6 separate regions of the Homo sapiens genome follow, and all the other regions are reported to be linked to region 2. The links are microRNA targets in miRTarBase. Many come from high-throughput screens and were not tested one by one. Region 2 holds a microRNA gene; each other region holds the end of a gene's coding sequence.
What was found. Region 2 holds the annotated microRNA hsa-miR-1-3p (UGGAAUGUAAAGAAGUAUGUAU, at 2,343-2,364, opposite strand). A microRNA usually pairs through its seed, bases 2 to 8, with sites in the 3' UTR of a target mRNA and lowers its output. Matches are read on the target gene's strand: a 7mer-m8 pairs with bases 2 to 8, a 7mer-A1 pairs with bases 2 to 7 and ends in A, and an 8mer does both.

Region 1: the mRNA of ZBTB6 is a reported target of hsa-miR-1-3p. Seed matches in the 3' UTR shown: 7mer-m8 at 2,837-2,843.
Region 3: miRTarBase lists RSRC2 as a target of hsa-miR-1-3p. The part of its 3' UTR that is shown has no 7-base or 8-base seed match.
Region 4: the mRNA of STX12 is a reported target of hsa-miR-1-3p. Seed matches in the 3' UTR shown: 7mer-m8 at 2,850-2,856.
Region 5: the mRNA of NAIP is a reported target of hsa-miR-1-3p. Seed matches in the 3' UTR shown: 7mer-A1 at 2,785-2,791 and 7mer-A1 at 2,158-2,164.
Region 6: the mRNA of PPP2R1B is a reported target of hsa-miR-1-3p. Seed matches in the 3' UTR shown: 7mer-A1 at 2,808-2,814.

Annotation. Positions count from the first base shown.
Region 1 is chr9:122,907,115-122,911,206 of GRCh38, reverse strand. It overlaps ZBTB6 (zinc finger and BTB domain containing 6), which reads left to right. Exons shown (of 2, transcript NM_006626.6): 2 at 1-3,151. The coding sequence ends at 409. Among named protein-coding and RNA genes, the nearest start is that of RC3H2, 3.8 kb to the right of the region's middle.
Region 2 is chr18:21,826,673-21,830,764 of GRCh38, forward strand. MIR1-2 (microRNA 1-2) reads right to left here and starts at 2,416; the gene lies at 2,332-2,416. All of the region lies in intron 12 of MIB1 (MIB E3 ubiquitin protein ligase 1), which reads left to right. MIR133A1HG (MIR133A1 host gene) reads right to left here. Exons shown (of 3, transcript NR_110369.1): 2 at 3,948-4,092; 3 at 1-2,780.
Region 3 is chr12:122,502,285-122,506,376 of GRCh38, reverse strand. It overlaps RSRC2 (arginine and serine rich coiled-coil 2), which reads left to right. Exons shown (of 10, transcript NM_023012.6): 10 at 671-2,923. The coding sequence ends at 850. Among named protein-coding and RNA genes, the nearest start is that of ZCCHC8, 3.4 kb to the right of the region's middle. RefSeq lists a silencer at 2,108-2,308.
Region 4 is chr1:27,821,956-27,826,047 of GRCh38, reverse strand. STX12 (syntaxin 12) reads right to left here. Exons shown (of 9, transcript NM_177424.3): 9 at 1,605-3,817. The coding sequence ends at 3,719. It also overlaps the pseudogene RNU6-1245P. Among named protein-coding and RNA genes, the nearest start is that of PPP1R8, 6.8 kb to the left of the region's middle.
Region 5 is chr5:70,966,715-70,970,806 of GRCh38, forward strand. NAIP (NLR family apoptosis inhibitory protein) reads right to left here. Exons shown (of 17, transcript NM_004536.3): 17 at 1,452-3,754. The coding sequence ends at 3,390. Among named protein-coding and RNA genes, the nearest start is that of SMN1-AS1, 36 kb to the left of the region's middle.
Region 6 is chr11:111,738,374-111,742,465 of GRCh38, forward strand. PPP2R1B (protein phosphatase 2 scaffold subunit Abeta) reads right to left here. Exons shown (of 15, transcript NM_002716.5): 14 at 3,680-3,771; 15 at 1-3,239. The coding sequence ends at 3,223. Among named protein-coding and RNA genes, the nearest start is that of PPP2R1B, 26 kb to the right of the region's middle.

The DNA.
Region 1 (4,092 bases), not on the chromosome of region 2:
GATTCAGAATCTGGAGGAAGGTTATTCACTGAGGCACCAGTGCCCCAGGTGTCCTCGAGGCTTTCTTCATGTTGAAAACTATCTGCGCCACCTTAAAATGCATAAACTATTCTTATGCTTACAGTGCGGAAAAACATTTACACAGAAGAAAAATCTCAACCGACACATCCGAGGACACATGGGCATACGGCCCTTTCAGTGTACTGTGTGCTTGAAGACATTTACTGCCAAAAGCACACTTCAGGACCACTTGAACATACACAGTGGGGATCGGCCATACAAATGCCACTGTTGTGATATGGATTTCAAGCACAAGTCTGCTCTCAAAAAGCACTTAACCTCTGTCCATGGCAGAAGCAGTGGTGAAAAACTATCTAGGCCTGATCTCAAAAGGCAAAGTCTACTATAATTATAATCACAGACTTGTTATATAAAGTTTGTATTATTCTATTACGCAAGTCTTTCTGTAGAGATGCAGCATTTGTAATATTTCATCCCCCCAATCTTTGTTTCTTATATTTTGTCGGCTTACACATAATCATTCTTTCTGAACTTCTAACAGTTCCAAAGTTATGGGAGGCACAGTAAAGCTGATGGGATTCTGTCTCATCTCATACCTTACATATAAGTCTCAGTAGTATCCCTAGAGAAATAGTGTTCCTCTCTTATATATTCTTGATTCTAGTGACAAAGGATCCAGCAGTATTTGCAGATTCCGATTTGGAGTCTCTAGGTAATTGATTTAAGTATAAAATCCAATCATATAAAAACTTTAATGAATTAGGATAACAAGAAGAGAAAATAAAGGTAAAAACACTATTACCTGTTTCTAGTCACTTTAGAACAGATGGCACTAAAAAAATTTTTTTTTAACTTTTTACCAGCTGTTCTTGGATTCCAAACTAAACACCAAGATACTTTTCATTTTAAAATGTATAAAGTAACAATTCAGATTCACTTGGGAATAGCAGAATTTTTTTATACAGGGTTAATAATCCTTAAAATACTTTTATTTCCATGCCTTATTAGTATACATACTTAAGAAATGGTTCATTGGGCCCGAGTTTCTTGATTTTATTTAATACAATCGGATTTAATAATTTTGTGGCCAGTAAAATTATACCATTGGCATGAAGCTGTGAAAAATGAGAAATTCTACCTTTACCAGGGATATCTGTTCTACTGTTTTAAAAGTTCCTCTCTATTTTATTTTTTATTTAACATGAAGTAAAATTGAAATTTCTTCTTGGTGTATAGTTCTGTGAATTTTAACAGAAAGATTTGTGCACCACTACTGCAGTCGGTACAGAACAGTTCCTTCACTCCCAATAGCTCTCTTATGCTGTCCCTTTGTAGTCAGCTCCTTCTAGCTCTAATCCTGGCAACAGTTCTCCGTCACTATTATTTTGCCTTTTCTGGACTGTCATATAAACAGAATCTTATAGTACGTTCCCTCTTGAAATGCTTTTTCACCCAGCATAATGACTTTGAGGTTCATCCATGTCATTTTAAATTTTGAATTGGCAATATATATTCTAGCTGTTACTAGATGAGCAATTTAAAAAGGTGTAGCTATTAGTGTTGTATTTTTTCATTTACATTAATGTAATTTCCATTCACTATGTGTTGATAAAAATCTTAACCATCCCTAGAGTTTTATATTTCCAAAAATATGCCAAAAGGAAAACTATGACTGTATGATTATTTTAGCGAGAGTCATATTTGAGATGGTGTTCTGAGCCATAGTTCTCTAACATCTCCGTCTACATATAACACAAAACTTTTATAAATTATTTTAACAAAGATTAAAATATACTGCAGGGCAAATAATATTCTCTAAAACACAGGAACTGCTTTTCGTAAAGAAGACTGACTAGATGCATCTTTCTTTGAAGCTGTTCTAGTCCTCCTCTAGTTAACTTAGCTTTATGTAGAATTTCTACTGTATTTAATTTCTATTGAAGCCCTTCTGTATTTTAAAATGTAATATACTTTGTACCATTTATAAAAATTGTGTGATGAATGAATCACATGTTCGTTGTTATAAGTGTTAACCTTTTTTTGACAATTTTGTGGGAAAGACATTCTCCACTGAATTTTAACTTTCCTTGAGACTTTCAAGAATGCAGGTCTCGTTTGATGAAAAAACCGACTTCATAACCCAATGTTACTAGTTAGCGACATTGTGCTGAATTTCTCCTTGAACTTTTTAACTTTATATGTAAAATAACTTTGATCTTGGTCATTTGAAAGATCATTTCCAGGTCTAAAATTCCATGATTTTGTATTTAATTCTTCCTGAGAACAGAAGAGGGGAAAGCAAGAGAGGACGGTTTTGTGTCTTTATGAACTTTGTTACTTAAGTACTCCATTGGAGACATAATTTTTCTAATTAGTGGATCTTTTTCCACTGGAAAGTGTGATAGCTCATTGCTAATTTTTCATTCATAGTTCATTGCTTCCATTTGACCTAAGATTGGCCATTTGTTGGTGTGAAAATATTTTCTTTTCAGAAATAGTTTACTAGTGATTGAAGTACTTTTCTTATTTTTGCTTCCTATTATAAAATGGCGTGGGGGGAAGGGGGAAGGATGGAGATGGGAGGAGAGGGTAAAAGAATAGTACTCTGATTTTTTAAGAATTAGTATCTACTATCTTGGATATTTGAAAAAAAATTGGTTGAAACTATGTTTAAGTTTTATGTGTGCCTTGTAAGATTGTTGTAAAATTTTTTGTGAGCACTTTGAGATTTTTGCTGGGGGAGGGGTGTTTTGTGAAAGTGATGGTTATTATTTATATTATTTATTCCTGTTCAGTAGCACGGAATGATCTCCAAACATTCCTAGGAGAGTGTCTGTTTGCATGATATGTCTAAAAATTTTCAGGAAAATGGAATCTTTTTTTAAAGTTCAGGTATGACAAAGTATAGAATTTATTCATTTAACATATTCACATTTAGTTTATGTTTCTGATATGACAGAAAAATGAAAAGTGTTTGAGTTCAGCCTCTTCATTTACTCCATTTACATATAAAAGATCTTGAAAAGGTAGTTGTTACTTCGTTGTCAGAGAAAAACACTTGCCCTTTTTCCTGGGATGTAACTATCTTACATGTTTACATAAGAAATAATAAACTGGAGGTGGGAATGGAGAACAATGTGTTTTGTCTTCATCTTTGAATTTTAAAGGATACAATTTAAAGGATACAATTTCTCCTGACTATACATTAATCATTCATCTAGCAAATACTTCCTGAGTCCTTACAATGAAATATAAGTTAGGTATACAGACAAAAATTCCTGCTCTTGTGAAACATCTTAGTGAAGGGAGACAAACAGTAAACAAGTAAGTAAAATCCATGTATGTCAAATTTTGAGAAGGAATTTGGAGAAAAATCAGGAATAGGGAGTACCAGAGAAGGGGGATGGAATTGCAATTTTAAATATGGTGGTCAGCGCCGGGCGCCGAGGCTCAGGCCTGTAATCCTAACACTTAGGGAGGCCGAGGCTGGCAGATCACTTGAGGTCAGGAGTTTGAGACAAGCCTGGCCAACCTGATGAAAACCCTTCACTAAAAATACAAAAATTAGCCGGGCATGGTAGCGCTTGCCTGTAATCCCAGCTACTCGGGAGTCTGAGACAGGAGAATCCGTTGAACCTGGGAGGCAGAGGTTGCAGTAAGCCAATATCGCACCGCTGCAGTCAGCCTAACTGAGGGAGCAAGACCCCATCTCAAAAATAAATATGGTGACCAGGACACCTTTGAAAAATCTCGGATTATCAGAAATATATATTCTTCTGTCTAGTGAAATGTAAATATATCCAGTAGAATAGAAAAATTTGGCCTGGACTGGTGGCTCACGCCTGCAATCCCAGCACTTTTGGAGGCCGAGGCAGGCGGGTCTTCTGAGGTCAGGAGTTCAAGACCAGCCTGGCCAACATGGTGAAAACCCGTCTCTACAAAAATACAAAAAAGAAATTTAGCCGGGCATGATGACGGGTGCCTGTAATTCCAGCTACTGGGGAGGCTAAGGCAGGAGAATTCCTTGAACCCAGGAGGTGGAGGTTGCAGTGAGCTGAGATCACACCATTG
Region 2 (4,092 bases):
TGAGAGGGGTGTCTTCTTGCATAAAATAAAAGTTTGATAAATTATAATTTGCCTATAAAGTTAAGTGCTCTCAGAGAAATATAGAGTAGAGAAATATTCTTTACAGTTACTATTTTAAACTGAGAGGTCAACGCTAATTCAGGCAGTATGCAAATGACTCTTACACTAAGTATATTCTGCGTCTGTTGGTTGGTAAGTATCATACTGCTGGTGAAATTAACTACAATTCTTTTTCATCATTTTTTCTAGTAGAAGTGAAACAGGTGTTAAACTGCCTAAACTTAAGTGCTGAAGATAGCAATAATACTGGCTTCTATTTTTACTAGTTATATGGGAGCTGTTTAGCAGATCCAGTTGCTCAAGTGTGTTTTTGGATGGCAGTTCAGTTTCATATACTGGCCATATCGGGGCAAGGAGAGGCCATGGGAAAAAAATAGTACAGCATTTGATAATGTCAGCATCTGTTATCCCTGTCAGGGAGACAGTTGAAATGTTTGAGTTATACCAGTGTCAGCAGATGCCCAGAGTTTAATATGTACTCAGTTAAAAATGAACAGCTGATCTAAGTGATAGATGTGACATTTTAGAGTGATTGAAAATACTCTTAGATAAGTTAAACTCGCAAGCACCAGAATCAGCATATAATTTTACTTTTAAAAATGAATAGCCTGTCATTTTATTTTCTAAGGATTATTTATATAGTCTTAATATTATAGCAAAGAGAGTCTTAGTTGCTAGGATGTTTGAGAAGGATTATTAAACAACTTGTATACCTATAGAATGACCAATATAACTGTTTATTATAAAACACAAGTAGAGTAATAAGCTTTGAGTATTTTTATAGAAGAACCTCTACTTTTGAGGTATATATTTTGAGTTCTTGGTATTTAGGACCTATACAGGTAAACTTACCAAATAGAACATGAATCATTGCCATTCTGTTTTGTGGATGATCAGAAGGGCTATGCTTATGTGAGTTAAGCTTTGAACTAATTTCTTTGAAAGTGTAGAATTTTAAAATTATGTGCCTTTTATAATTTCCAGTAAACATGCAGTAACACATATGATGCCATGTGTAAGTCATTCTCATTCTTTATAATCTGATAAAATGAAAATCATCTTTGTATTAACTAGTCTTATTAAACAGAAAATGAACTATAGTTAAACTTAGTCATTTCCATTCAATTTCTGATACAAAAAATTTAAAATATTATGCTTTTATACATGTGTAAATATTTCAGTTGAAATAATACTTTTAGTAAGAAATGGTTAGAATATGTGAATATTACTCTTATTTTCTAACTTTGTCATTAGTAGCTTAAAACAGGTACTGCTTATAAATTTTGCTAAGAGCATTATTTGGAATTTTTTATAAATAATATACAAACTGTGTGAAATAAAAGTATTTTGATATTTCTAAACAATGGATTGATCAAGTTTAGAGAAATTGAATTGTAATTGCATAGTACAATAAAAACAGTTCTTCGATCTGTATAAATTGGTTCTTGACTATAGTGCTTTCATTTTACATGCCCTCTTTGGAGAAAGCAAATTCGAAGATAATACAGATAAATTAATTTCTTTTAAATATTTGGTAGTCTGTTACCAATATACCCTGCTGACTTACAGCTGTGGACCAGAATTTTGTCATTTTTCATGCTTAAATCTTACATTTTAATTAATTTTAAGTTTTAACTTCACATTTAAAGTAGAGATTTGGGTTAAGACCCTGATAAACTTGAGAAGGAAGGACAAGGGCCACTATGTTTGTAGCTGTCAAAAAAGAAAGCCTTTTTAAAACAACAAAACTTTTGGTCAGAAATTCCTCTAATATTAATTATACATTTATCAAAATGAGAAGAAATAGCTTATTATGTGAATGAAGCCAGCTCTTAGTATCTTATTTTTCTGTACAAATCAGTGAGCCCTACTAATGAGATATACTTAAGATTAAATTGTGGAGACAGAAAATAGGTCATGTGTATTCCTCATTCTTTTGTGCTAGTAATACTATTTTCCCTTTTGCAGTCAAATTTTAATAATGAGAGTGCCTAATTTAAAAATGTAAGATGTCTGTTTTAAACTTAGATGATTTAAAAGGAGTTTCATGATAATTGAAATCTACTTCACTGGATCTTCTTTTCCTTCATGAAATAAAAACCTTAGGGATAGTTTCTATCTATCAGTAGTAGATAACCTTTTTTTTTTGGTGTTAGTATTGCCAAAGGTCATCTGTTCATGACTAGGTTAATTTACCATATGACGGTCATTCACGTAGAAAGAAGCAAGAGCTTCTTTTAGCTCAGTTTAATTCTCCCTTGGTGGTTTATTGCCTACCAAAAATACATACTTCTTTACATTCCATAGCATTGTATGTTCATATGGGTACATAAAGAAGTATGTACTCTGAGTAGGTATTACTAAGTTGTTAGCTGTAAAAACATGAAATATTTTATTTTCTTATTTGTTAGTGAAACATTCAGCTTACTAATGTAGAGCAATGGTAAATCATTTGCAGAGACTAATTTATCGAAGACTAAATTTTGTAACAAGTTTACCTGAAGCATGGCATTAATGGTTCCATATTCTTGGTGGACATAGACATTCCTAAGCATTTGACCAGTTATCTGTTGAACTTTGTCCTGGTTTGATTCTTTTTGCAAGAGATTCAAAGAATCAGTGTAGTGTTACAGAGTGTATTTCGGAAACTTAAGATCAGCCTAGTGTTTCTTCAGTCTTCAGAGTGAATTTCTTCTTTTTTTGTAGTCTGCTTCTAGATCCTACAGGTAGATAGTAATTAATTAAATTCAATTTTTTTTTTACAAACTAGATATCTTACTCAAAACCTAACAAATTAACCAATAAGTATTTCTGATATTGACTCTAGAAGTTGAAACAACAAGGAGAAAAACCAGGATGAGTGTGGGTGAATTGAACTTTTTTAAAGATTATGAATTTTTGTTAGTGTTTTATAAGGTCACAGATAAGAACTCGTGATCATTTGAAAATTTGTCATTCTTTTTTCTTTATTAGTTCCTTACCTGAAGTTTGCACTTTGATGCTTCTCTTTGGGTTAAATACAAATATGAGTTGAATACAAATTCAAATAGATGTAGAAATATCTAATTTTGGTGAGTTTAAGTTGTTTTGATTCTTTAATCTTTTTAGTATAAAGGATAACTGTCAGAATCGTCAACTTTTAGAAAGTATCACTTCAAAGAACTGAAAGGTTTTAGTCTGTGAGCACCTGGGTTTTATTTACCTTGATAGTTTAGAATGAAAAGAAATTATAGTTGGTAAGTAGCCTTCAGTTATTGTGGTATTAGAAGGTTAATTTAAAACCTCAAGAAATTTTCAGATTTGTCAAAGGAGGAAAAAAAAGGGCAGGGATAGTAGAATTTCTGCAGCTTGTGATAAAAAGCTAGTGCAGCTTATAGAGAGCAAATCAGAATGTAGCAGTAGATAGCCCAGCACTACAGCAGTTTCAGCAATGCAGCATTAGAATTACACCATGCACGTTCTGATTTATTTTTGTGGCCAATTATTAGTAAGCATTAAAAAGTATTTTATGATCTGCCAAGTTTCTTGGTTGACTAAACCTTGAAATAGAAGCTAATAGTTTTAGAAAATAAGTATACTTTGGAAGCAGGATGTGACTTACTAGAGATGCAAAATCATCACTTAATCTGAAACAATAATGACTAAATCTTTAATAATGTAAATGACAATAATGTATTTGTACATTTTTAAGATAAAAAGTTACTGCCATAGTATCTGAACAATATTCCTTTTTACACTACATTAGCTCTTAACTTGAATTGTGAAATTAGGCTATGGTTAGATAGAATTTAATTTAACAATGAGAACATATATTGAGTCAATAATAGGTAAGCATGCAGAAAGTCATAAGCATCCTTAAAAGTACAGGCCTTATGGTGCTCTGTTACCTGTAAGCTTAGTGTCATGCAGCATTTGCAGCAGGAAGAAAGGTAGTAACCTAGAGAATCACATCAACAGCAGCCATCTCATCTTGATTGTTCGTTCACTCTATTTGCTGATTCAGCATTTCTTTTCATGAGCCCGGTGAAGGAA
Region 3 (4,092 bases), not on the chromosome of region 2:
TGAAGTTAACTTTTGTTACACCCTGCTATATTCCAGACCTAGAAAGAACATTGCCTTGTCCTTTGGAGGTGTTCAATAATGAATGGAAATTAAGTTATTGAGATCAAATACATATCCCAAAAGTATATTTTTGTTTGTTTGTTTTTTGTTTTTAGTATAGACGGGGTTTCACCATGTTGGCCAGGCTAGTCTCGAAATCCTGACCTCAGGTGATCCACCCGTCTCAGCCTCCCAAAGTGCTGGGATTACAGGCGTGAGCCACACTGCACCCGGCCAAAAGTATAATTTAATAGTGTCAGCCTAGTTCACACCTGTAATCCCAACACTTCGGGAGGCCGGGGGGCAGGCGGCAGGGGGGATCCCTGAGGTCAGGAGTTCGAGACCAGCCTGACCAATGTGGTGAAACCCCGTCTCTACTGAAAATACAAAAATTAGCTGGGCGTGGTGGCATGTGCCTCTAATCCCAGCTATTTGGGAGGCTGAGGCATAAGAATTACTTAAACCCAGGAGGCAGAGGTTGCAGTGAGCCGAGATGGCACCACTGCACTCCAGACGGGACAACAGAGCAAGACTCCATCTCAAAAAAAAAAAATACATAAAAAATAGTGTCAAGTGAGAGAATATTTATCTCCATCTGAATTCATTGTAATGTTTTATGTCTGATTTTTAGAGTGAAGATGAAGCTGGATGTAGCTCAGTTGATGAAGAAAGTTACAAGACTCTGAAGCAGCAGGAAGAAGTATTTCGAAATTTAGATGCTCAGTATGAAATGGCAAGATCACAAACCCACACACAAAGAGGAATGGGTTTGGGTTTCACATCTTCAATGCGAGGAATGGATGCAGTTTGAAAATGATCACACTTGTAAAGTTTGGGACTTATAGACTTCTTGTTCTGATGTCACGTCCTTGTTCACCAAACAGCTAGCACTCTAGCTTGCATGGGTGTTGCATTGACTTTAATTTATTGAAAAATACAAATTTTTGTAAATATCAGATCAGTGATACTGGTGTTAGTGTTGTAATCAGGTTAAACCCACTTCCATTAAACTTGACAGGACTATAGAAGGATAATATTTTTTAGTTCATGAATTCTACTTTTCAAATATATAAAAGCTGCAGGTGGGGATAAAATCTCATACATGGATTTTTTCGTGTCCGCTGTCTTGTGTACTTTTGTACTTAACCTTGTACAGTTATTTTCATCTCTTGAAACATGAAAGAAATGTTATGTAGATGTTCTTTAGAAGATCTGGCCATTTGGTACATAATCCAGCACAGATAAGCTGGGTGGTAATGATAATAAAAATGGTTTTCTCAAAACTGGTGTTAATTTAAGTTACCTGGGATGTTTCTTTGAATTTGTTTTATAGTTTCTGTAGCATTTGGCAATTGCTGTTAGAAAACACTAGCTAGAAATCCCCTCCCCACCACCCTTTTTAAGGCCAGTTAACTATACTACAGTCAATACCGTGGTGAGCAAAAATGTAAAAGGTGGAAGGAGAAAACTTACTAAAATAGTATGTTTTCCTATTATAAGGGACAGACTTGGTATTCAGTATTTGTCAAATATTACATGTGTTATTCAGGAGATAGATTAATGCATTAAAGGGATGTAAGCACTTTTATTTTAATAAAGTGCCTTATAACAAGTTCTTTGCATGCTTTTTGCTCATTATCCCTTTGAAGTCTTCTCCAGCATAGACTATAAAATATTAAAATATTAGAAATTTTTTTTGTTTGTTTTTTTGAGACAGGATCTTGCTCTGTTGCCTAAACTGGGTGCAGTGGCACAATCTCGGCTCACTGCCAGAGCCTCTGCCCCCCAGGTTCAAGCAATTCTCCCACCTCCACCTCCCATGTAACTGGGATTACAGGCGTACCACCGCACCCAGCTAATTTTTGTATTTTTAGTAGAGGTGGGGTTTTACCATGTTGGCCAGGCTGGTCCTGAACTCCTGACCTCAGGTGATCCACCCTCCTCAGCCTCCCAAAGTGCCGGGATTATAGGCGTGAGCCACTGCAGCCAGCCTAGAAAATGTTTTGTTACTAGATTGAACATAAATCTGGAGCCAAGGGGTGGGGGGGGCCTGCAAAACTTGAAGTTAATTTACTTCAGTTACAGCAAAGTAATAAGGTTTGGCTTTCCTTTGAAAAATCCTTTGGAAAACATCACAGAATGAGAGCACATTACAATCAGGGAAGACTACAGGAATAAGATTGACAGCCTTATTTTAAAAGCTGGAATTAAGTCTTGCCAACTTGCTCATTAGGTATTTTTTTTATACATGAAAATGAAGTAATGGGGTGTTTTCTTTTTTTTTGCTTTCTGTCCTAGGCTGGAGTGCAGTGCATTGCAGCAGGCTCCCCCAGGCTCAAGCAGTCCTCCCACCTCAGCCTCTTGAGTACCTGGGACCACAGGTGCTCACCAACACACCTAGCTTGTTTTTAATTTTTTATAAAGACAAGGTCTTGTTACGTTGCCCAGGTTGGTCTTGAATTCCTGGCCTCAAGCAATCCTCCCACCTCAGGGCTCCCAAAGTGATGGGGTTACAGGTGTGATCCACTTCACCTAGCCAGATTGTAAGATTTTTAATGTACTTTAATAAACCTTTCATTTTCCCAGAGCACAGAAATTCTATGGCAAAATGGCTTTTCACCGTGTTTCAGTGACAAATCTAAGCCTTCTAAGGAAATGACACTATGGATCCTTCATTTCGTGATCATCAACATTTTTCAATTAAGCTCTGCCTTTTTAAATCAATCTTATTAAAAATGTTCATGACCTTCTAAGGCAGTGTGGACGCAAAAGCTTCCTGTGTGTCTACAGTTATTTTAGGAGCTGACCATACATGATGAGTGATACAGCCTGTACTTTGCTCATCTAGAGCAGCACTGTCCAATAAAATATGTGTGTATATGTATATTGGTCCAAGTGATCTTCCCACCTCACTCCCCTGAGTAGCTGGCACCAAAGGCCCATGACAATGTACCTGAGATGGGGTTCTCAGGCTGTTGGCCAGGCTGGTCTCCCACTCTTGGCCTCAAATGATCTGCATCATCTCAGCCTCCCAAAGTGCTACCTGGGATTCAGGTGTGAAGCCACAGTGCCTGGCCTAAGTATTTTATTTCAATTTCTTTTTTGAGTAGCCAAATGCAAATAATTAAAAGATGAAATTACAGTTGTCCCTTGAACACATGGGTTTGAACTTTAGGGTCCACTTACATGCAGAATTTTTTTTTCTTTTTTTCTTTTTTTTTTTTTTGTGAGAGACTCTTTTGCCCAGGCTGGAGTGCAGTTGCATGATCCTAGCTCACTGCAACCTTTGTCTCCTGGGTTCAAGCAATTTTCCTGCCTCAGCCTCCTGAGTAATTGGAATTACAGGCACCCGCCACCACGCCCGGCTAATTTTTGTATTTTTCGTAGAGACGGGGTTTCACTATGTCAGCTAGGCTGGTCTTGAACTCCCGGGTTACACCATGTTGGCCAGGCTGGTCTTGAACTCCTGACCTCATGATCCACCCGCCTGGGCCTCCCAAAGTGCTGGGATTACAGGCGTGAGCCACCACGCCAGGCCTCATGCAGATTTTTCAGTGAAAGTAAACCTGGGAGGCGGAGGTTGCAGTGAGCCGAGATCATGCCACTGCACTCCAGCCTGGGTGACACAGTGAGACTCTGTCTCAAAAAATAAAATTTCAAAAAAAAAAAATTTAAATGGCCAGGCACAGTGGGTCATTCCTGTAATCCCAGTATTTAGGGAGGCAGAGGCAGGAGGATAGCTTTAGCTCAGAAGTTCAAGACCTACCTGGGCAATATAGGGAGATCCTGTTGTCCACAAAAAGAAAAAAAAAATGTTAAAATGTGTAAGTGACTTCCCAATGTTGTAAACGGAAAGAGGCTTCCTTAAGGGCCTTTGAGCACTGACCTAGCAGTGTTCCAACCTCATCTTGCTCCACTCTGCCTTTTCACTCAACATGGTGGTCCTTACACCTAAGACACTCTTCCATCCTCCCACCCCCAACTTTGCCGATCCTTAAAGTCTCACTTCCTCACTTTACTGACTCCCACAGACTAGGGTGTTTGTTAAATATT
Region 4 (4,092 bases), not on the chromosome of region 2:
CCAGTACTGCTAGGATATTTCATAAAGGAAGTAGAAAAGGGGATGATGGCTCACGCCTGTAATCCCAGCACTTTGGGAAGCCGAGGCAGGTGGATCACGAGGCCAGGAGATCAAGACCATCCTAACAAACACGGTGAAACCCTGCCTCTACTAAAAATACAAAAAATTAGCTGGGCATGGTGGCGGACGCCTGTAGTCCCAGCTACTCGGGAGGCTGAGGCAGGAGAATGGCGTGAACCCAGGAGGTGGAGCTTGCAGTGAGCCGAGTCACGCCACTGCACTCCAGCTTGGGCAACAGAGCGAGACTCCATCTCAAAAAAAAAAAAAAAAAAAAAAAAAAAAAGAAAAGGAGATGAGAAAATGAAAGGAAGATAGAGGTAAAAATACAATTTGTATGTTCACACTAAACTGCCGTGGGTCCTTATAATCAGAAAATTTCGTAGCTGGAAAAGAGCTACCAAGAAAACTTGGGGCCTAAAGGTTAAGTTACTTTTTCTTTTTTCCCCCGAGACAAGAGTCTTGCTCTGTTGCCCAGACCTAGAGTGCAGTGGCATGATCTTGGCTTACTGCAACCTCCACCTCCTGGGTTCAAGCAATTCTCTTGCCTCAGCCTCCCAAGTAGCTGGGATTACAGGTGTGTGCCACTATGCCTGGCTAATTTTTGTATTTTTAGTAGAGATGGGGTTTCACCATGTTGGCCAGACTGGTCTTTAACTTCTGACCTCGTGATCCACCCGCCTCAGCCTCCCAAAGTGCTGGGATTACAGGCATGAGCCACCGCGCCCAGCCATAAGTGACTTTTTCAAATACCCTCAGCAAGTTAACGGCACAGCTAAGGTCTTTTGTACCCCAGTCTAGTTTCTGACATCCAAACCAATGCTTCTCAACCACAGTTACAGGTAAGAATTACCTGGGGCCTTTAAAAATCCCTATGCCCAAGCTATATATACTCCAGACTAAATTAAAATCTTGGAGTTGTGGGACTGAGGTATCAGTATTTATTTTTTATTTTTTAGCAAGAAGAGGAGCACAGAGAATATTTTTTTAAAAATATAGAGCACTTCGGCCAGGCGCCAGTGGCTCAGGCCTGTAATTGCAGCACTTTGGGAAGCCGAGGTGGGCGGATCACTTGAGGTCAGGAGTTCCAGACCAGCCTGGCTAACATGGTACAACCCCATCTCTACTAAAAATATATTTTAAAAAATGAGTCAGGCATTGTGGTGAGCACCTGTAATCCCAGATACTTGGGAGGCTGAAGCATGAGAATTGCTTGAACCCAGGAGGTGGAGGTTGCAGTGAGCTGAGATTGTGCCACGGCACTCCAGCCTGGGCGACAGCGTGAAACCCTGTCTCAAAAAAAAAAAAAAAAAAAAAAGTATATATATACATACACACAGAGAGAGAGACAGAGAGAGAGAATTCATGAATTTGCAAGTCATCCTGGTGCAGGGGCCATGCTAATCTTCTCTCTATTGTTCCCATTTTATATACGTGCTGCCAAAGTGGGCACTGTATTTTTTTAGTTTCTAATGTGAAGCCATGTTAAAAACTGCTGTCCTAGATTGTGATGCTCCCAATGATAATCAAGGCACAGATAAGGAGAATTCTGTGAATAGGTTTATTAAGACCACCTAGGAGAACCTCTTTGGCAACTACCACAAATTCTAGGCCATTTAAAATCCAGGCCAAGTTCATATTTGCTCTCCATGATCACCATTACAACAACCACAGGTCACACAGTATTACAGAACAAAAGCATGGTCACTTTATTTTACCCAAATGCAAATCGTTTTTCACAACCAAGACTTTTTTCTTTCCTACAATGTTACAAATGATGTATCCAAGTCCGACTGTAATTTGGAGTTAAACAGGGATCATAGAACCAAGGAATTATCTCTGAAGCTGCTCTTTGGGCCACTGTGCCACCCCAACAGCTCTATCCTGTTGTTCTTTTTTTTAATTAAAAAATCATTAAAAAAAAAATGGAGATGGGGTCTTGCTATACTGCCCAGGCTGATCTTGAACTCTTGGGCTCAGACGTACCGATATACTGATCCTCCCGCCTCAGCCTTCCAAAGTGTTGGGATTACAAGTGTGAGCCATTGCACTCAGCCATCTCTACACACTGTTTTTCAAGGAAAGGCAGCTACACCTATTCCGTCTCCAAACCAACCCTCACCTGGTGTCCAGTTTTCTTGGAAGTCTCAATTTTTCTCATGACAGCACATTACCTAATACCTACCACATTAGGATGTTAACTCATAAAAACATACTACAAAAGCTTTAAAAAACATTTATTTGTATTAAGTAAGTGCAACAGTGCAAAGAAACTTATGCATTTGGGCCCTTGCTTCCCTACTGTTCACATTAGTTTAGTTTAGAAGATTAAGTATAATAACAGAAGGAGAACAGAAGAAATGAATATAAATATACTCAGGGTAGCCAAATCCTCTAATTCACTAAAGGATGAACCAAAGTTGTTGGCCAGATTCACATTTATGTGGGAGCCTAAACAAATTATGTTCCCTTTAACTGTTCTAGGCCTGTGGAAAAGGGAAGTGGACAACATTTATATTACAAGACAGTAATTTTATTGAAACATCTTTTTTTGTCTAAAACTATGCATGGAGATATTAATCTCTTGTTTATAAATTAGGTTAAGTCTAACATCACTATTTGAAACCAGTGTTATTTACAAAAATGAACCTCTTCTTTGCTTTATTGTTGGTTTACAGGAATAATTTTAAACCAACCTCAATCTATCTTTAAAAATCTTCCTGCCTTCAAATGCCCAGCAACCCTTATAAGGTAGGGGGCAGCCCTTTGACAGCAACATTCATCATTCACCAGGAATGTAGAACCACAAGTGAACAACAACAACAACAACAACAAGATTAAATCATTCCCAACAATTCCTATTTGCTTTTCCAAAGCATGCTATGTCTAATTCTGCCTTTCTATGCAGACAGGTGGGAGAGGGAGCCCATAGAGTATATTAATGTTAATTAAATTAACTTCCTTTAAAAGCTAACAGGATGGCTTAGTGTGGATGAGGATGAACTGCTGTGGATGACACTAGCAGATAATGAAGTAAACTTTAAACCCAGATTAGTAACATGTACTCCAGTAACTGACCAGCTCAGATAGAGACTTCTCATTTACTCTGGATCACATGTACAATATTTTACCTTCCAATTAAATATAGTGCCAAAATCTTTCAAAATAGATAGAGAATAGGCTTCTTAGAAATTCAAATAAAAATGTTAAATAATAAAAACTGGTGGCCTATTATAGAGTTTCTGACAGACTCCAATATACTGGGTACCAGAAAGTAACTCTATCTCAGATGCTAGTAAAAAGGTAAATTTTGTATATACATAAAAGACAATATTACGAGACTGTAGTGTCATTTGTCAAAACAAGAATATCTAGAATGGAATTTTCAGTAAACACTTGGGATGAAGGGCAATCAGAATACAAGAGGAAGCAAAATCCACATAAGTTAATTCCTAATTTGAGAAATCAATAGAATCAATAAATTGATAATTACTGTCTCCATAGGTCACGAATTCCAAAGACTAGTTAGTAGTTAGTTTCTAACTAAATGATTACAGGACGTTCTGATATATGCTGTCTTCTTGTGATCAGTTTGTTCTGGCAAGACTTCAACAAGCACTTGCCCTTGAAAACAGCTCAGCGGGAGAACGATCGGAGGCAATCACTTCGTTTTATAAACTAGCCAGATAATAAGTCCCAAGATTAGAATAATCACTGACAGGACAAGCACCAGGATACACATCTTCTTGCGAGATTTTTTCTGAGGAAAGAAATATGTAAACAAGATACTCATGAAACAAGTAAAATTTGTATGTGTAAGACTCTAAGAATGCTTCATAAATCTGCCTCCTTGTAATTAAAGATTAACTCTATCCATGCAAAATTATGCACAGACTTTCCCAGAAATCTTAAGTCAGCAGCACTAGGTAGTAGTGCAAGTGTTTTTTGTTTGTTTGGTGTTTTTTTTTTTCTTGAGACAGAGTCTCACTCCGTCACCCAGGCTGGAGTGCCGTGGTGCGATCTTGGCTAACTGAA
Region 5 (4,092 bases), not on the chromosome of region 2:
TTTTTAATAGTATGCACACATGGGACAAAACTCAACTGGTATAAAAGGGTATGCAGGAGAAAAAAAGCAAACTTCCCTCTCTCCCTTTTCTGTCCACCAGCCATCCTGTTCTCCTCCCTAAACTCAATTATGGTTGCCTGTTTTTTATATAAGTTTTCCATGAATTTATAAATACATCACGTGCATATATCCTGTCAGTCAATATTAAGAAATTACTAGGTTATTTTGTGTTTATGTGTGCACTATTAGATTTAATGAGTTATGCTAGTTGTTGCCTCTTATATCCACATTCAGTCTTCATTGTCTGTTCTGTAATAATAGATCTGGGCCCTGTAAATACCTCTCCCATGACAGTAAGCACAGAGTGAAACTTTGTCAATCGAGGGTGCTGCTGACACACTGAAGGGGCAAGGGCTGCTTTTCCTGGTTCCATTGTGCTCCTCTAGGCAGACACCTGCAACACCTGTGCCATCTGCAATACCAGCTCCTGTAGCACATACACTCTGCCTCTGCAGCACCTCGTTCTGGCTGCACACTTCTTGGGCGGTGCCTAACTTCAGCAGCACCCAATGGTCAGCAGCGCACAGTACCCCCACATGAATGGCTTCCCTTGACATGCACAAGGTCCCTTCTCTGCAAAGTGCCCCAAGCCCAGCACCTTCTCCAGCTGCAACTCCACAGCCTCAGCAAACCTCTGTCTTTCACAGCTGTGTCCTCTCACACGAAGTCTGGATCTCAGCCCGGATCTCAGCCCTGAGCTTTCTTCTTTGAGTTGTTCTGTCTCAGCCTGGGGTGAAAAGCCCATATCGGCTGTTCCCTGCATCTGCCCAGGCTTCTCTTTATTCCTTACTACCCAATCCCCATTCCAATCCTCTGTTAATAACTCTTACGGACAGTCCCCAACTCATGATGACTTGACTTAGGATTTTTCTACTTTGCAATGGTGCAAAAGTGATCCGCATTCAGTAGAAACTGTTCCTCAAGTACTCATACGACCTCTATTTTTCACTTTCTGTACAGTATTCAATAAATTGCGTGAGATTTTCAATACTTTATTATAAAATAGGCTTTGTGTTTATGATTTTGCCCAACTGTAAGCTAATATAAGTGTTCTCAGCGTGTTTAAGGTAGGTCAGGTTAAGCGATGATGTTTGGTAGTTTAGGTATATTAAATGCATTTCTGACATACAATATTTTCTACTTACAATGGGTTTTTCAGGATATAACCCTGTTGTAAGTTGAGGAGCATCTTATTTTATTTATTTATTTATTTATTTGAAATGGAGTCTTGCTCTGTCACCCAGGCTGGAATGCAGTGGCACGATCTTGGCTCACTGCAACCTCTGCCTCCTGGGTTCAAGCAATTCTCCTGCCTCAGCCTCCCAAGTAGCTGAGACTACAGGTGCACACCACCATGCCTGGCTTTTTTTTTTTTTTTAATTTTTTTTTGTATTTTTAGTAGAGACAGGATTTCACCATGTTGGCCAGGCTGGTCTCGAACTCCTGACCTCAAGTGATCTGCCCACCTCGGCCTCCCAAAGTGCTGGAATTACAGGCGTGAGCCACTGCGTCAGGCCGAGCATCTGTATATTAAACTTTCCCCATTCAAATTTCTGTGTGGTTTCTGTCTCCTGACTGGATTCTGATATAATGCTTAACAACCTTTCTAATTACAAAGGTATTACATATAAAATCAGACAAGCAAGAAGACAATCCATCCCACCTTCTAGTACTCTTGCCCTCCAGAGGTAGCTCCAGTTAATATTTTAGTGCTAAACTAGATTTATTTTTGTTTTAAATAGAAAAATAATGCAGGCACGAAAGTAAAACAAAAAACAGTACAGAATGGGAGAGACTGAAAAGTAAGAATGGCTTCCAGGCCCACTTCCTAGAGGTACGCACTATTAACATTTTTAGATATAAACTTCCAGAAATTTTTTTCCAGTTTTATTTAGGTATAATTGACAAAATTATTTATATTTCAGTTGTACAACATGGATGTTCAACATGTTTTGGTGTACATATACTTTCTGATATTATAAATGGTTACCACAAGCAAGCTCAGTAACATATTCAGAAATTCTTAATGTAGCTAGCAATATAAGTGGTTTTGTTTTTTGTTTTGAGACAGACAGGGTCTTGCTCTGTTGCCCAGGCTGGAATGCAGTGGCGCCATCTTGGCTCACTGCAACCTCTGCCTCCCGGGTTCAAGCAAGTCTTGCGTCTCAGCCGCCCTAGTGGCTGGGACTACAGGCATGTGCCACCACACCTGGCTAATTTTTGTATTTTTAGTAGAGATGGGGTTTCACCATGCTGGCCAGGCTGGTCTCGAATTCCTCACCTCAAATGATTCGCCCGCCTCAGCCTCCCAAAGTGCTGGGATTACAGGTGTGAGCCACCGCACCCAGTCATAAGTGGTTTTCTAAACAAATGAGACCACACCATACATACTGTCCCTATATTTCATACTTGGGCAAGGGGAGGGGAGTTGACTTTTTTCTTAGTGAGAATAAAAATGAGGATAAAAGTATGGTTGTTTACCAACTTATAGTAGTATCATGAATTTCGAATGGTCTTCTGGCCGTTCAGAAAACTACTTAACTGGTAGGAACGAAATTCTGGACACTGACATTGATATAGACACTCATATCAAATATAATACTATGAAATACTATGATATGGAAATAATATGCAATCACTAGAGATAAAATATTTTCTACCCAAGTAGAGTGGATTCATAAGAAAATTCTAAATTATAGCATATGTTGAACTCTGAGAAGCCTCTGGAATGAAGTCATTTTTCCCTAACCCCTGTTTCCTCTTTATATTGGCAGTGGATAAATGGAAAGTAAGTTAACTCTACTGTACCAAAGCTAGTTCAATATAGAAAACAGGTTCTACAAGGATTAAGGAACATCTCTTGGCCCACAGAAGATTCATGTGGATCCTGTGTTAAACCCGTTTCATCCATGTATGAAAGTGATTCAACCGTTAAGTTAGCCATTTATTATATAAATTGAATACTTCTTCCATATTGTGGCTTTTAGATAGATTGGCAGACCTGTCCCCAACCCCTTCCCTGTTGACCATGGACAATGGAGGGTTTGCTGTATAAACTTGATTGAAGGGTTTGCCTTTAGCTGGGGTGGATTACTCAGGGACCTCAAAGGTATTGGTGATGATTTATTTCTTGAGCTTGGTGGTGAGTATGCAGGACTGTGTTTTGTTTTGTTTTGTTTTTTAGCAAGCCTTACACATTTTCTTTTGTATGCAATATTTAATAAAATAATTTTGGATAATTTGGTTTTTAGCATTAATCAACAACTTTTTTTACATCCTCAATATGCCCCAAGACAAATTATTGATTCAGCAGTTTTTAGCTGAATCTTTTATTTCTGAATGATTGGAGAGAACGGCAGTATCCATTTCTGGAGAATAGTTAAGTACTTAGATTGAGGATGTCTTTCTTTCATGACATTAAGCAATGCAATATCATCTGCATCCAAGAGCCAACTTAACATGTTCAGTCTAATGAGCCTTGGTAGTCGTAACACACATTGACTCAAAGACTTGACTGTTGTGGCCTGAGCTTTGATACACTCTGTGAAATGCCTGGAGATGTCCAACTCCTGCAAGTTTGGCATGTTGTCCAGTGCTTGAAAGAAATTTCTGTATCCTTCCTCTGTAATCTTGTGATTGATTGAAAGCTTTAGGTTCTCAAGTTTCTGGAAACCTCCACTGATTGCTACTTTGGCTACAAGAACAAAACATTCATGAAAATAGAATCATAAGGACTTCCATTTCAATAATGGTAGACAAGGTTATTTGAACCAGCCTCCTCTCCCACCACTACTGCTAGTAGGAAGTACTCAATATAATTTTGTTTTTTGAAATGGGGTCTTGCTATGTTAACACAGGCTGGTCTCTTTTTCTTTCTTTCTTTTTTTTTTTTTTTTTTTTTTTTTGAGATGGAGTCTCGCTCTGTTACCCAGGCTGCAGTGCAGTGGCATGATCTCAGCTCACTGCAACCTCCGCCTCCCAGGTTCATGCCATTCTCCTGCCTCAGCCTCCCGAGTAGCTGGGACTACAGGC
Region 6 (4,092 bases), not on the chromosome of region 2:
ACAGGGACAGAGCCAATGTGACGTCTAAGGGCAAGCCCCAGCCTTTCAGTTTAGTGACAACACAACAGTTAACAAAGGAACAAAAGTGCACCAGGTTAACCGCCGGGTCAGGAAGGACAGGCTTGCTTCCCTGGAAGTCTACGCAAGCAACCTGAATGCCTGGACAAGCCAGCTCAAAGGTCAGGCTGCCGTCTCTGTTGAGTCAGGACAAGTTGTCTGGCAAAGACCCCTGGGGCTCTGCATCACAGTGGCTGAGCTGTGGTATTTCTGTGAGCTGAGGGCAGCCCGTTATTTCAACAAGACCTCGTTAGAAACCACATATTCACCTGCCTTCCTTCTTATGAAACAAGATGCATCCTCAGGTTCACATCTTCTTGGTAGCACAGAGAGAGAAACAAGACCTGGTCTCTTAAACCTGTGAGGGGTAAACCCCACACAAATTACAGAGAGAAACACCAAGGTGAATTCCACTGTTGCTGAGACATTTTTATTGGCATAGGTTATATGTTTGTGTGTGTGTGTGTGTGTGTGTGTGTGTGTGTGTGTGTGTGTCTGCTTCATTTTTCTAATCAAACAAACAACTGATGTAAGCTGCCAAGGATGAAAAACAACATTACATGTCTGAAGCAATCAGACAAATCCACACAGAACTGTAGTCTAAGCCAGGGGACCAGAAAAGGGCCACATAAAGCTTGTTTCCTGAAAGCAGGAAAATCTTTCTGTCAGTGGGAGAATAAGACACAGTCTGGTTCTTTTGATTATTTGTTCCATGCACACATTGGAGGATATTTTAGAAATTCATCCATTGAACACATTTTTATTGAGCACCTATTATGTGCACCAGACACTGTTCCAGGCACTGGCGATACAGTAGAAGATAAAACAGACAAAAATACCAGCCTTACAGAGCTCCTAAAGCCTATATTCCAGTGAAATCAAGATAGGAGAACTTTTCCCTTAAGTTTAAGGTAGTTAAAAAAAAAAATAGGAGAACTAATTCATGGAGAACATGGCCAAGTTATGAGCCAAAGCACAATTCCTCTGAAGAGTACCAAAACAAATTCTCTCTCTATTGCTTAAGTCAGAAGGAAACAATGAAACCCCTGAGGGGTCACCACAAAAGACAGAGGCCCCGCTGAACCCCCGACCCATGCTTGAGAAAGCCAGGGCCCACTCTCCCTCTCTCAAACAGTTTTAGGGTAGAGAAGTCAATGCTTAGGGCTCCTCACTGGGAGACACAAGGGCATTTTAAAAGTCTGTCCCCAAAACAATGGCATTTCCAACCAGAGTAAAGCAATGGTTCCAGTGCAAATCTGCTTCATGAAGACAAATGTCTCTCAAATATGAAATTCAATGAAGAAGAACATAACTTGCAGGTAACAAAAAATAAAGACTCATGAAACTAAAATTAAAATGTTTACAGAATAATAGCATAAGATATTAAAATGAGAATATAGAAAAAGATTTGTGCTTAGGAAAATACTTAATTCTTGGCCCAAAGTCATAAAATAGAAACTTACTATAAGGTAATTTGGCAGTTTAAAATGCAGACAGATAACCTCTGATTTACAATTTCTATTTTTCGAATGTAGGACAAATTTTAAAGTATTTAGTAAAACTTGGTTTTATGTAACAAATATACAAAGTCTTAGAGGAGTCTTTGGGCCTTCACTAAACAGAACAGGACTTGTTAGATTTAAAAGAGGTTGTGAACAAAATCAACAATTCAAAAACCAAAAGGGTAACAAGCAAACCTCATAGCAAGATGCACTGAGAGAAAAATAAACTATGGGAAAACCCCCTTAACCAAAAGTCATGAGACAAGGTGAGTTTGATTATGTGAAAAATAGTTGTTTTTTTTTGAGATGGACTCTCGCTCTATGGCCCAGGCTAGAGTGCAGTGGCGCGATCTCGGCTCAGTGCAACCTCTACCTCCCAGGTTCAAGCAATTCTCCTGCCTCAGCCTCCTGAGTAGCTGGGACTACAGGTGTGTGCCACCACGCCCAGCTAACTTTTTTGTATTTTTAGTAGAGATGGGGTTTCACCATGTTGGTCAGGCTGATCTCGAATTCTTGACCTCAAATGATCCCAAATAGGTGCTTTTTAAAAAGGGCTTTAATACTGTTTAAGTAGTTCAAATAGGCTTCCTCACTATTAATTTGCTTCAGTAAACTCTTCAGCTTAACTCATTATCTTAAATTTCAGAATTAATGAGGTTTTACTGTAAAAGTAGAAAAGCAAACACTTCAAATGATAAGACTCCAGTATCACCCATACTAAAAACTTAGCAATAAAACTGCAGTTTGAAAAGCTACTGTACAATGCAGCAAGGACTAGGTGTCAATACTGCTGGAAGCAGAGCCAGGTAAAGAACAGGAAATCTGCACAGTATTATCCCTGTGGTTCTTAGACTCATTCGAAATACAGAACTGCAATCTCACAATGAAACAAACATACTGCTTATTAGGAGGCACTACAGTTAAAGCTTTTTAGAAAAGAGAGAGAAGTATTTTTAAATGTAGGCACAGTGGTGAGCTGTTCAAATTCAGTTAGGCGTCAACATCACACATTAGCAGCAAGATGCAGCCACACTTCAGGTTTCTGAATGACATGAGTACAGACAAAATTGAGCAAATAAAAACCAAAACAACCACTACATTAACCCTGAGCTTCCACATTCCCCTTTCACATGAGACTAATGCAGACCATCATAATTCAGGAAAATGTGGCTTTCATTACGGTCAAATCTCAACATGTCTCCCGAAGAGTTTATAAAATAAGTTATTCTAAACATGTACATTTAGCTTTGGAATGATGGAGAGACACAGAGATATATGTAAACGTCAAGAGAATCACTCCACTCCACGTCTGGGTCCACACCCTTCCAGGCTTTGTCTGGAACATTATGTGGCTGGTGCCTGATTCCACAGTGAGGATGCAGGAGCCCAGGTGGTGATGGATAAAGCATTAGGAGACAATCAAGTGTCAGGAATTGGTCAATAAGAACGGCTTAAATAATGATTTAACAAGGAAGACGAGTAAAAAACAATCCCATTTCATCTTTAGAAAGAATTAAGTCACTAAATGATTTCTTCTAAGTTGTTGCCATTTGCTTGGATGAGATCTTGAAGGTTTTCCATTCTTTCTCCACCCAGTTAAGAACACATTGACTAGAAATTTGTGACAAGAATCTAGTAAAGGCCTTTTCCCTCCTGCTCCTCATTATGCCAATGCAAGAACTGGAAAATTCCAAACAAAATCAGGTTAGTGGTACAGAAAGTTCACGAACGATCTATGTGAATATTAAGCACAATAACAATGATCCAAACGTATCAAACTAACAACTTCTCACTGTGGTTACTGTCTTTACTCAGCCAGGCTAATCAGAAGTGAAACTTTAAAAACTGGTTAAATTCCAAACGAAAAACTATTCTTACCAGTGAGAATCGTATTTCCTACCCAGTCCTACATGTAACTAAGAAAAATAGCCTGCTCACTTATGAGAAAATGGTGGGCCAAGAGGGTTCTAATCAGAGAGACACCAGCATTCCAGGAACTTACTACCCTCCCTGTTTCCCATAATACTTATCATCCTACCCACTTAACACCTCTCACATAATAGAGATAAATCCCAGTTAACCAAGGCATAAGCTGCAAGGCAAAAGAAGGAAATACATACCACTTATAGCTTCCTGTGCAAAGTATTTGACATCCATGTCTTCATCTTGACCTAACTTCTGTAGTACTGGCTTCACTTCTCCCTGTAAAGCACTGACATTCAAAAGTATTATCTGTGAAAGACAGTCTAATGGGCCATAGAAATCCTTTTTGGTGTATATGGTTAATGGTAATTGTTAAAATTTAAAGTAAAAAAATAAAGACATTTATAAACTTGACAAATACACAAAATAATGTCTAAAGAAATTCTCAGCAAAATCAGCTTCAGACAAGGATCTACACATTTACAGAGCTTAAATATAAAAGTCATAGTGGACATCCTCAAAAATAGTTGCTAAATTATTTTCTTTAAGCAAACCCAGATCTTAAGTAAAGTGAAAATCCCTGAACTTAATTTTAGCTAATTACTCCCCA